3 separate regions of the Homo sapiens genome follow, and all the other regions are reported to be linked to region 2. Evidence: microRNA targets listed by miRTarBase, many of them from high-throughput screens and not tested one by one. Region 2 holds a microRNA gene; each other region holds the end of a gene's coding sequence.
Evidence for each region. The annotated mature microRNA hsa-miR-30b-3p reads CUGGGAGGUGGAUGUUUACUUC and lies in region 2 at 1,055-1,076, shown strand. An mRNA with a match to its seed (bases 2 to 7 or 8) in the 3' UTR can be bound and repressed. Matches are read on the target gene's strand: a 7mer-m8 pairs with bases 2 to 8, a 7mer-A1 pairs with bases 2 to 7 and ends in A, and an 8mer does both.

Region 1 (3,183 bases), not on the chromosome of region 2:
TTAGAGTTTAAATCCCATAAGGGTAAAAATTATCACTGCTTTAGCCACGATTTTATCCATTCACCTAGTGCAGTGCCTGACCTAGGGGCTTGATGCATATTAGTTTATTGAATGAATGAAGGGTTAAATGAAATGCAGGCTACAAAATATACAGTGTGAGTAAAAAAGGGACTAAAGAGTTCATGTGACCATACCAGGCACAGAAACTGGCTACTTCCTGTAGGAGCACGTGGCCTGGGCCCTTTCCTGAGGGGAGAGAAGGGAGAGGTGCACCCTGACTTGGGAAGAGCAGAGCTGGGTGGAAGTGGTGGCCTTGGGGGTTTCTGTGCCTTCTGCTTCCTGGAAGGGAAGGGGGTTCACCACCCAAGGTGCAGGGGTACAGGGGAGGCGGTGGCAGCCGAGAGACTGAGCTGTCAAGTTCCGTGTTTTGGGATAGGTCTCAGGGTGCACACAGTGCAGGCAGAGATCAACCTCTTGCACAGTAAGTTTCCCAACTAGGGCAGTGTCAGGGAGTGCCCTAGAGGACAAGAAGGGGAAGAGTTGCCAGGGCGAGACTCCGCCAAGCCACTTATCTGGACAATCAGCCACCACAAGGTCTCACATTGTACCTGGACTCTGAGACGACTGGGACCCTGGGGCTGTGCTTGAGAGCGTGACTGGCCACTGTGGGGGTGTAGGGGGACTGTTCGTACACAGGGTTCTCCCTGATACTCCTTTTTTTTTTTTTGGATAGAGGGTCTCACTCTGTTGCCCAGGCTGAAGTGCAGTGGCATGATCTTGGCTCACTACAACCTCCACCTCCTAGGCTCAAGCGATCCTCCCACCTCAGTCTCCCAACTGGCACCACAGACACGCACCCAAGCCCTGCTCATTTTCGTATTTTTAATAGAGAGAGGGTTTCACCACGTTGGCCAGGCTGGTCTCCAACTCCTGGGCTCAAGTGGTCCGCCCACCTCAGCCTCCCAAAGTGCTGGAATTCCAGGTATGAGTCGCCGGCCCCAGGTACTTGTTCTTGAAGACTACTCAGGCCTGTAATCCTAGCACTCTGGGAGGCTGAGGTGGGAGGAATGCCTGAGGCCAGGAGTTCGAGAACAACCTGTTCAACATAGGGAGACCCCTATCTCTGCAAAAAATTACCCAGAAGCGGTGGCATACTTGTGGTCCCAGCTACTCAGGAGGCTGAGGTGGGAAGATCACTGGAGCCCAGGAGGCCCAGGCTGGAGTAAGCCGTGACTGCACCACTACACGCCAGCCTAAGCAACAGAGACCCAAACAAACAAACAAACAAACAAACACCCAAAAAGGACTGCAACGGGTTGGGGGCAGGGTAATAAAGACACTACTTCCTCCACTTCTGTCAACAACCCTGACCTGGCTGGTTTGTCAGCCCTCCCGTCTCTGTCTTCTATGATGTCAAATTCTTCTGCCCACTTGGCTCCAGAAGTGGACTCCCATCCTCCAAATCACCATATCCATGCCAGAAAATGCCAGGCCAGCCTGTTTGCTTGTTTTCCCTTTTCTGCGCAGTGGGGCCCTTACGTCTCTGCTCAGCCCCAGATATGTAACTGTGCAAAGTCTGTCACTGAGAAACCTCTACTTGCATTTCACATCCATCTTCTTGGCTCCGAGTAGGACACTAAAGTCAATTTCTCCTTGTGACCCTGTGCCTAAGCCCAGGGCCCAATAAACACATTCTGAAGGAATGAATTCATCCATTTATTCAACTTTCCGGTATGCAAGAACTTCTTTTCATGGAGTGTCACGGAGGCCCTGAGGGAGGAACGGTAAACTGGGGCAGGGGTGTGCATAGCTCTAGGAACAGGTTTAAGGTCTAGGCTTTAGAGTTGGGGAAAGGGGAGCTATTACAGATTTCAAAAAGGCCATAACTGGCCTTAACCTGTGCAAAATCTTGGGGGTGAAAGGGCAGACAGGGAGTCAGGCTGGAGGTGATGGAGAAGTGAGGAATATGGGGAGGTCGTGGTAGTAGAGTTCACATTGAGTGGATGTGGGTTCTGAGTCAGGGAAGGTGGTGGCACTTTGTGTGTTGAGACTGGGTTGGTAGAAGAACAGAGCTCACCACATCTCTGGTATGGAGGGAGAGGGGAAAAGAGCAGAATGTGAGGGCAGGTGCTCAGCTACTGCTTCCTTCTTGGAGCAGGTGACCAAGGAGTTTGGCTATCACTCCCTGCCCATCCCAGGCTCCCTGCTTGGGGAGGGGCCTCCACTAACCTCCAGTGTTTTATGTTTTTAGTTGTGAGTCATGGCTGAAGAAAGCCAGAGAGAAAATAGGAGAAAAAAGGCGGAGCTGAAAATGGAGGCAAAGTCCATGGGTTGGGGACCTAGATGGCCCCCTTCAAGTAGCTCAGGCCTGGCAGCTTGTGCTGGGCTTGTGGAAGATTCCCTCTTAAGAGGTGAAATACCTCGGGAAGCAAGCCCCAGCACGGGTAGGGCTTGTGGGTCTGCGGGGCTGGGCCACTAGTGTTACCTGACCATGCCAGCTGCCCCTACCCCAACTGCACACAGGAGCAGGGCACATGGGGTTTTGCTGAGCACGTCAGCCAAACCAGGGCAGGGAAGGTGTCTTCGCCCTGGGCAAGGCCAAGAGGGACACGTGCAGTCTTGCTGGTCCCACAGCCGGCGGCACGCCTCACTCCTCCCAAGGGCTCATGTCAGTGTCGATGGCCACGCAGTTGTAGGCCGCATAGCGGAGCTTCTCCTCGCATACCTTGGCACTGTGGGAATGGGGACTTGGTCAGGTCCCTACATCGCTACCAGGGGTGATGGGGTCCCCTGGGCCCCAAATCGAGCCTAGGAAAAAACCCACCTGGCATAGTGTGGCAGGAAGAGGGTGCTGGAGCAAGTGGAAGACTCGGGCAGCGCGTCTGTGGTCTCGTAGCTGGGGGCATTGAGGGACCATAGGTCAGGAAGATGTGTTGGGGCACATGTACGTGTGTGGGGAGGGAGGACAGAAGGCGGCCATGGCACCTTCAGGCCTCCCTCCAGCACTCACCCCAGCTTGTCTGGGTAGATGTAGATCCGTGCTGGCAGGCGACTGCGGCCCGTGACAAAGCGCAGGAAGCGGCTCCGGTCCTCTGGAGGGAGAAGGAAATCAGTGCCTGCATGGATGGTGAGGGAGGGTCTACAACTTCTACCCTGCCTCTGCAACTCAGCAGCAGAGTCCAA
Region 2 (3,183 bases):
TGGTTGTAGAGTGGGGTGGCGGGGAGGTATATGTGTATTTAATCTTGAGAACCAATGCTTTTGGAAAACAGCCCGAAGGGACAAGAGACTAGGTAGAGACTGGCGAGGTTCCTGAAAGTCCTGGGTTACCTGTGAAATGCCAAAGATTTTTAAAGTTTGCTGGCAGTGGTTATTATATGTAGTTTTACTTCCAAATTTGAAGATTTCCTCTTCTTTGATGCAAGTGTGTTGGTAGGACCACTGATAATAGTTAGTGGAGATATTTGTGGGAATATATTTTTAATCAGAAAGAATGCAAAAAGAGGGGGAGACATTTCTTTGAGACACCTTAATGACACTGGGAACAGTAGAAGGTGGAAAGAGATCAGAGTGTGGGAAAGATGTGCCTGAGATGAAATTATCTGAATTCTGAATGTGGGGGAGAAGATGAGGAGAGGGTTGAGGGGGAGGAGAGATGACTAAGCTCCTCACAGTGTTTCATTAACTGTCTTTTACCTAAAGGAGGAATCTTCTTAATGAAGATTGGTTGATGCATCATACTGGTCATCAAGTAAGTTCTTATAAATGCAAGTTTGATTGTTTTGAAGGGAAGGATATAGGAAGGCTGGATAATCAGCTACATTTAGATATGGAACACTACAGGATGTCGGCATTTATTGTTGTAAATTCCTTTGGTGAAAAACGTTATCACTTGTTTGTGACTAGCCTGGGCAATATAGTGAGACCTTGTCTCTAAAAAAAATTTTATTAATAAGAAAAATTAGCCGGGCATAGTAGCGTGCCTGTAGTGCCCCCCACTGCCCTGGACACGCCCCCACTTCCAAAAAAACAAACACCCAACTCACTTCTGCCTTTTCCTTGGATTCTACACTTTCTCTCAGGATATCTTTCCGATTGAGTCTTGCCTCATTTATGTGAATGCTGTGCCTGTTCTTTTTTTCAACAGAGTCTTACGTAAAGAACCGTACAAACTTAGTAAAGAGTTTAAGTCCTGCTTTAAACCAAGTTTCAGTTCATGTAAACATCCTACACTCAGCTGTAATACATGGATTGGCTGGGAGGTGGATGTTTACTTCAGCTGACTTGGAATGTCAACCAATTAACATTGATAAAAGATTTGGCAAGAATAGTATACAGAGGCTTGAATTTTTAATGTAATTAATGTAATTAAAGGTTTGTTGGAAATGTGAGACCATTTTGTTCTCCCAGAGAAAAAGTGTGTTAATTGTCTAGCTGGCAGGGATCTACTTGAATATGTTTGCAGAGAAAAGCAGAAGAAAGCATGGTTGCAGTAGGAGTAGTTAAAACAGAAAAACAGTATGCTTATAGAGGAAAAATTACTCTAAATTTATTAAAATTCCTTTAAATTTGTTACTCAATTTAAATTTTTATTGTATCTTTTCAATTTTGCTATAGCACTAACATGACATAAGGCTCTGGGTATTGGGACAAAAGAATGCCCTTGTTTGGTAGTTGGGGTCGGGTTTGTAGTATTGCAGTGTGCTTTAACAAGCATGGGCTTTGACATCAGACATTTGTTGCCATCTGGACTCCACAAGTGAATTTGCTACGGGATTTGGAGGAGGGAAAGGCACTGTTTCCATACCTCAGTGGTTTTCTCATCTGTAAAATAAGTATGTGATTGCATGGATTGACTTACATGATGAATATAAAGTTGTTCATTAGTACAGTACCTGTCATATTAAGTACTCAATAAATGCTAGTTATTATTAATGCTGTGTTGTAGGTGTTCAGTAAATAGTTGCCATAATGCTTAAAGCAGACATAACTTGTTTTTATTTTTGCAATAAAGATGATGCCAACTTTTTGGTTTAATGGAAATGCTTTGAATCTTTGATATTGTTGTAATATAGTGGCAAAGAATTTTGAATCCCAGCTTCTGGAGCTCATATCTTGATTCTGCGAGTTACTTCGCTATGTTACTTTGGGGGAAGTTATTAATCTCTCTGTGCCTCAGTTTCCTCAGTCGACTAAATTGAAATTATAATAGCACCTACCTGATAGGATTGTTGAGACTAAATGAGGTAACAATTTAAAAATAAGCTAATACCTGATAATTAGTTCTATATATGTACTGATTGGTCTAAACGTTATTTCCATTTTCATGTCTTTACTTAAAATACTGAAAATTAATTTTTTATAGCTTTGTTTTTCAGTTCCATGAAATCAGCCTGCCTTTTCTTTTTTTGGTGATACATCCACATTCTGTATAGGTGAAAAGCAAAACAAACAAGTATAAAACGAAAATTATGTAAGAAGTACACACATCCTAGCAGCTTGGCAAGTGTCTGTATGCTCTTGCCTGTGCCTAAATCCAGAATTAGAATTCATGCTTGGTGCTCCTGTGGAAGATGTCTAAATGTTATGAGAAATACATGATTAAATAAAAATGTGAAATGAAAGCATGGAGACTTGTTGAAGGTGAGTGCTGTTTTTCTAATTATATATTTTATTTGTTTAATGAATAATTTGTTAATTTTCTTTGTCATTACGAGAGAGCTGTTTTATTCTGTACTTAGGTGCATAGCATACTATGTTTTAGTGAGCTCCACATGTTAATTTGAAACTTGCCAAATTTTTACATTATTTTATAATTTATAGTACTTTGAGAAACATATTGCAATGCATTACAAAGCATATAATGTAAAGGTAGTTTTATGAAGTGTTTTTCTCCCAAATTAAGCATATTTGGGAATTGCCCATCAATTTGTTTTTGAACCTCAGTGCATAAAATATAGAATTTTTCTTTCATATGCTAGATGTGAAAAATACTCAGCATATGCATGTGGTTTAGGCTACAAAATAGCCTGTAGGTTAAATTCCTAATTCTAGTGTTTAATTCATTGCCTTTTTTCTTCTTGTTTAATGGCCATATGTTTATATCTTTATATTACATACATTCCTGATTATGTAATAAGGTCTTTGATCATGTGGGCTATCAGATTTGCCTCACTTTGTCTCTTAGAAGAAGCTATACATGAAACTATGTTGTACTTAAGTGAAAATTTGAGTATTTTTCTTGTTTGAATTAATGCAGTGAAACATTCTACTTACAGTTAGCTGTCTCCCACCCTTACAGGAAGGTACATGCCTTCATTTTTTAAAACACTGTATATTTATTAGAATTGTTACAGAATTTTAGTAAATATATTCTAATCACAT
Region 3 (3,183 bases), not on the chromosome of region 2:
GGCTTTCTATAAATACTTCTCTGTCTTGATCCATGCTCTTCTTAGCACCCACCCGTTTATCAGACATTCATCCTTCAAGGAAAACTCTTCCTTACAATATAATACCAACAAATATAGAAAAGAATTAGAAAAAAAAATCACCATTTTGCAGCCATAAGAATAAAATGGATTCAGGCAAGAATCATCAATTGATGGTAAATACAAAATGTCATATTTTATGAGGAACGAGATATTTTATATAATGTCAAAGTATCTCTCCCTCAAATTATTTATGAATTATAAGGATAACCAGGTTGATATAATTTAAAAAGCACCCTAATAAGTAATTAACATTAATAACACCAGCAAGGGGAAAATGCCATGTACCTCCAGACGTGATACCATGACACTATTACTTATGCAGTATTCCAGTTAAAAATGCATAACCATGAAGAAACATTGGAGAAACCCAAATTGAGAACATTCTATAAAATAACTAGCTTATATTATTTTAAAATGTTAATGTTGTGAAAGACAAGGACTGAGGACTTTTTCCAGATTAAGAGACTAAATACAATACGTGATCCTAGACTAAATCTTGAACTACAGAAAAATGCCATAAAGGACATTACTGAAACAACAGATATAATTTGAGTGTGAGGTGTAGATTCAGAATATATGCTTAATATTTACTAAACTAGAAGAGCTCTCATTCCAAGAATCCACACACTCCCACCACATCTGAGGATATGCCCTTATACAATACACCTGAGAAGAGAAACTGACAGAACTAAATGATTAATATGTGCTAATAACAGTGTCTAGAGCACTAAAGATAAAAATGAACAAATTAGGCCAGGCGCGGTGACTCACGCCTGTAATCCCAGCACTCTGGGAGGCAGAGGCGGGCGCATCATGAGGTCAGGAGATCAAGACCATCCTGGCTAACACGGTGAAACCCCGTCTCTACTAAAAAATACAAAAAATTAGCCAGGCATAGTGGTGGATGCCTGTAGTCCCAGCTACTCGGGAGGCTGAGGCAGGAGAATGGCGTGAACCTGGGAGGCGGAGCTTGCAGTGAGCCAAGATCATGCCACCGTACTCCAGCCTGGGCGACAAAGTGAGACTCCGTCTCAAAAAAAAAAAAAAAAAAATTAACAAATTAAAACACTGGAAAGGTTTAGAGAAACCATCATCACTCACCTTACTTTAGGGACAAATACATGAATTTGGGTCCTTGTGATTTTTGATAAAGATTTCAAGTTTCTATTATTGAACATAAAACTAGATTCCAAAGGAAATAACTAGAAGAGTTACCGATAAAAAATTTAGATTCTTAATTTTTACACAAAATATCTAAAAACACACATTATACTGTCTTTTGAATTTTAATGACACTAATAGCTTTATTTAACAAACACTGAGTGACTACTATGTGCAAAGCACTATGCTAGGTGCATGAAAGATACAAAGATGAAAAAAGACACAGTCCCTGCCCACAAGGAGCGTATAATCTAGTGAGGGAGACAAATACACAAATAACTAGAATACAAGGCAGTAAACAAGAGTGGGCAAGTGCTGAGTGTGGCCTGAGTGTGATACTAACTAGCCTCAAGGTTCCAATTTGAAACACGATGAAATAGTGTTGTCTGCTTCGAAAATCCCATCCCAAGTTTGGCATAATGGAAGTTAAATGGCCCTACCCAAACAGGTGGAAATAACAGAGTAGGCCAGGTGGAGGCGCTGTTTGAAAGTACTATCACACCTACATACATGGTGCTGATATAAGTACGTAGGTACAGCTAAAAAAGAACTTATATATATATATATATCATATATATATATATCATCTGTCCTTTGGTTAATGGCTATAGCTACTGTTTTAAACAATATACTTTTATATAAAAAGGAATTTGTATAATCCCAGAAAAATCAATTTAAGGATTAATATTAATTCAAGAAAGAATCCTGCCATAGGCAATTTTATTTACTAATTGATTAAGTCTTTTCTCTAAATATCTATAAAGCTCTGTAGCAATTAAACAGTTAGACATCTAAGTATTGCTGAGTAGAAACCTCTTATGTTCAGCCTTCTGAAATAAATGGTCACATACCTGATATATAGCACTATTCTAACAGCAACAAGAAGGCCTTAAAGAGATTTTAAGAAAAATAATTTTTAATGCTTCAATGCAAATGGAGTACACGCTGATTAAATACAACTCAATGTTCTTTGAAAACATCTCAATGACAGCGTTTGATACCAGTTAAGGCCAGCAAAATTGTACTGAGGAAAATATTATTACATGTACTGTCTTTCATTGGTTTCATGTATCATTGCTTATGACTATGGCAACCAAATCTTTTCTTTGACAACTGCATTTATGGGAACTGATGAGCTTTGATTTATGAGCTTTGATTTGCTTTTAGTTCATAGGCCAATAACAAGTGCTGACCACCTCCTCTTGGTAGTGCTGTCTGAAATAACTGGCAAAGTAGAAGCACATTTCCTGGCTCCTTTTCCCACTTCCTGAATTGGAGGGTTCACCACCTTAGCCTGTTTCCTTTCGTGTGTCACTGTGGTCCTGGGTCCTCTGCTGCTTTCTCTCAAGGAAACGAGCCCGTGCATCAGATATGGATTTGTCATCATTTCTTCTTTGCATTTTCTTTAAGACGTCTTTCGATATTCCATCTGAAAACATTACAAATTAATCCAATAAAACTTAGCTTTGAGATTCAGTACTAGAAATGTTAAGAGAAAGAGAAGCCCTGATTTTTCAGTGTTAACAAAGTAAAAACAATAAAGAGAAAAATTAAATTTTGCCCTTTCAAAAGCAATGTAGTCTATGGTTACAAAATTAAGAGCACCAAGGCCAATGAGTCAGAAAAACTGACCCTAATTCAAGCATGTGGCAGTGTTATTACACTGTAATAGAACACCTAGTGGCTAAGATTTCTTTTCTTTTTTTTTTTTTTTTTGAGACGGAGTCTCACTCTGTCGCCCAGGCTGGAGTGCAGTGGCGCAATCTCGGCTCACTGCAAGCTCTGCCTCCTGGGTTCACGCCATTCTCCTGCCTCAGCCTCCCGAGTAGCTGGGACTACAGGCGCCCGCCACCACACCCAGCTAGTTTTTTGTATATTTAGTAGAGACGGGGTTTCACCGTGTTAGCCAGGATGGTCTCGATCTCCTGACCTCGTGATCCG

Region 1: the mRNA of HECTD3 is a reported target of hsa-miR-30b-3p. The part of its 3' UTR that is shown has no 7-base or 8-base seed match.
Region 3: the mRNA of DHX40 is a reported target of hsa-miR-30b-3p. The part of its 3' UTR that is shown has no 7-base or 8-base seed match.

Annotation. Positions count from the first base shown.
Region 1 is chr1:45,000,845-45,004,027 of GRCh38, forward strand. HECTD3 (HECT domain E3 ubiquitin protein ligase 3) reads right to left here. Exons shown (of 21, transcript NM_024602.6): 19 at 3,011-3,092; 20 at 2,825-2,896; 21 at 1,704-2,732. The coding sequence ends at 2,648. Among named protein-coding and RNA genes, the nearest start is that of HECTD3, 8.9 kb to the right of the region's middle.
Region 2 is chr8:134,798,425-134,801,607 of GRCh38, reverse strand. MIR30B (microRNA 30b) reads left to right here and starts at 1,001; the gene lies at 1,001-1,088. It also overlaps a transcript of ZFAT not described here.
Region 3 is chr17:59,606,521-59,609,703 of GRCh38, reverse strand. It overlaps DHX40 (DEAH-box helicase 40), which reads right to left. Exons shown (of 18, transcript NM_024612.5): 18 at 1,359-2,671. The coding sequence ends at 2,532. Among named protein-coding and RNA genes, the nearest start is that of CLTC, 12 kb to the left of the region's middle.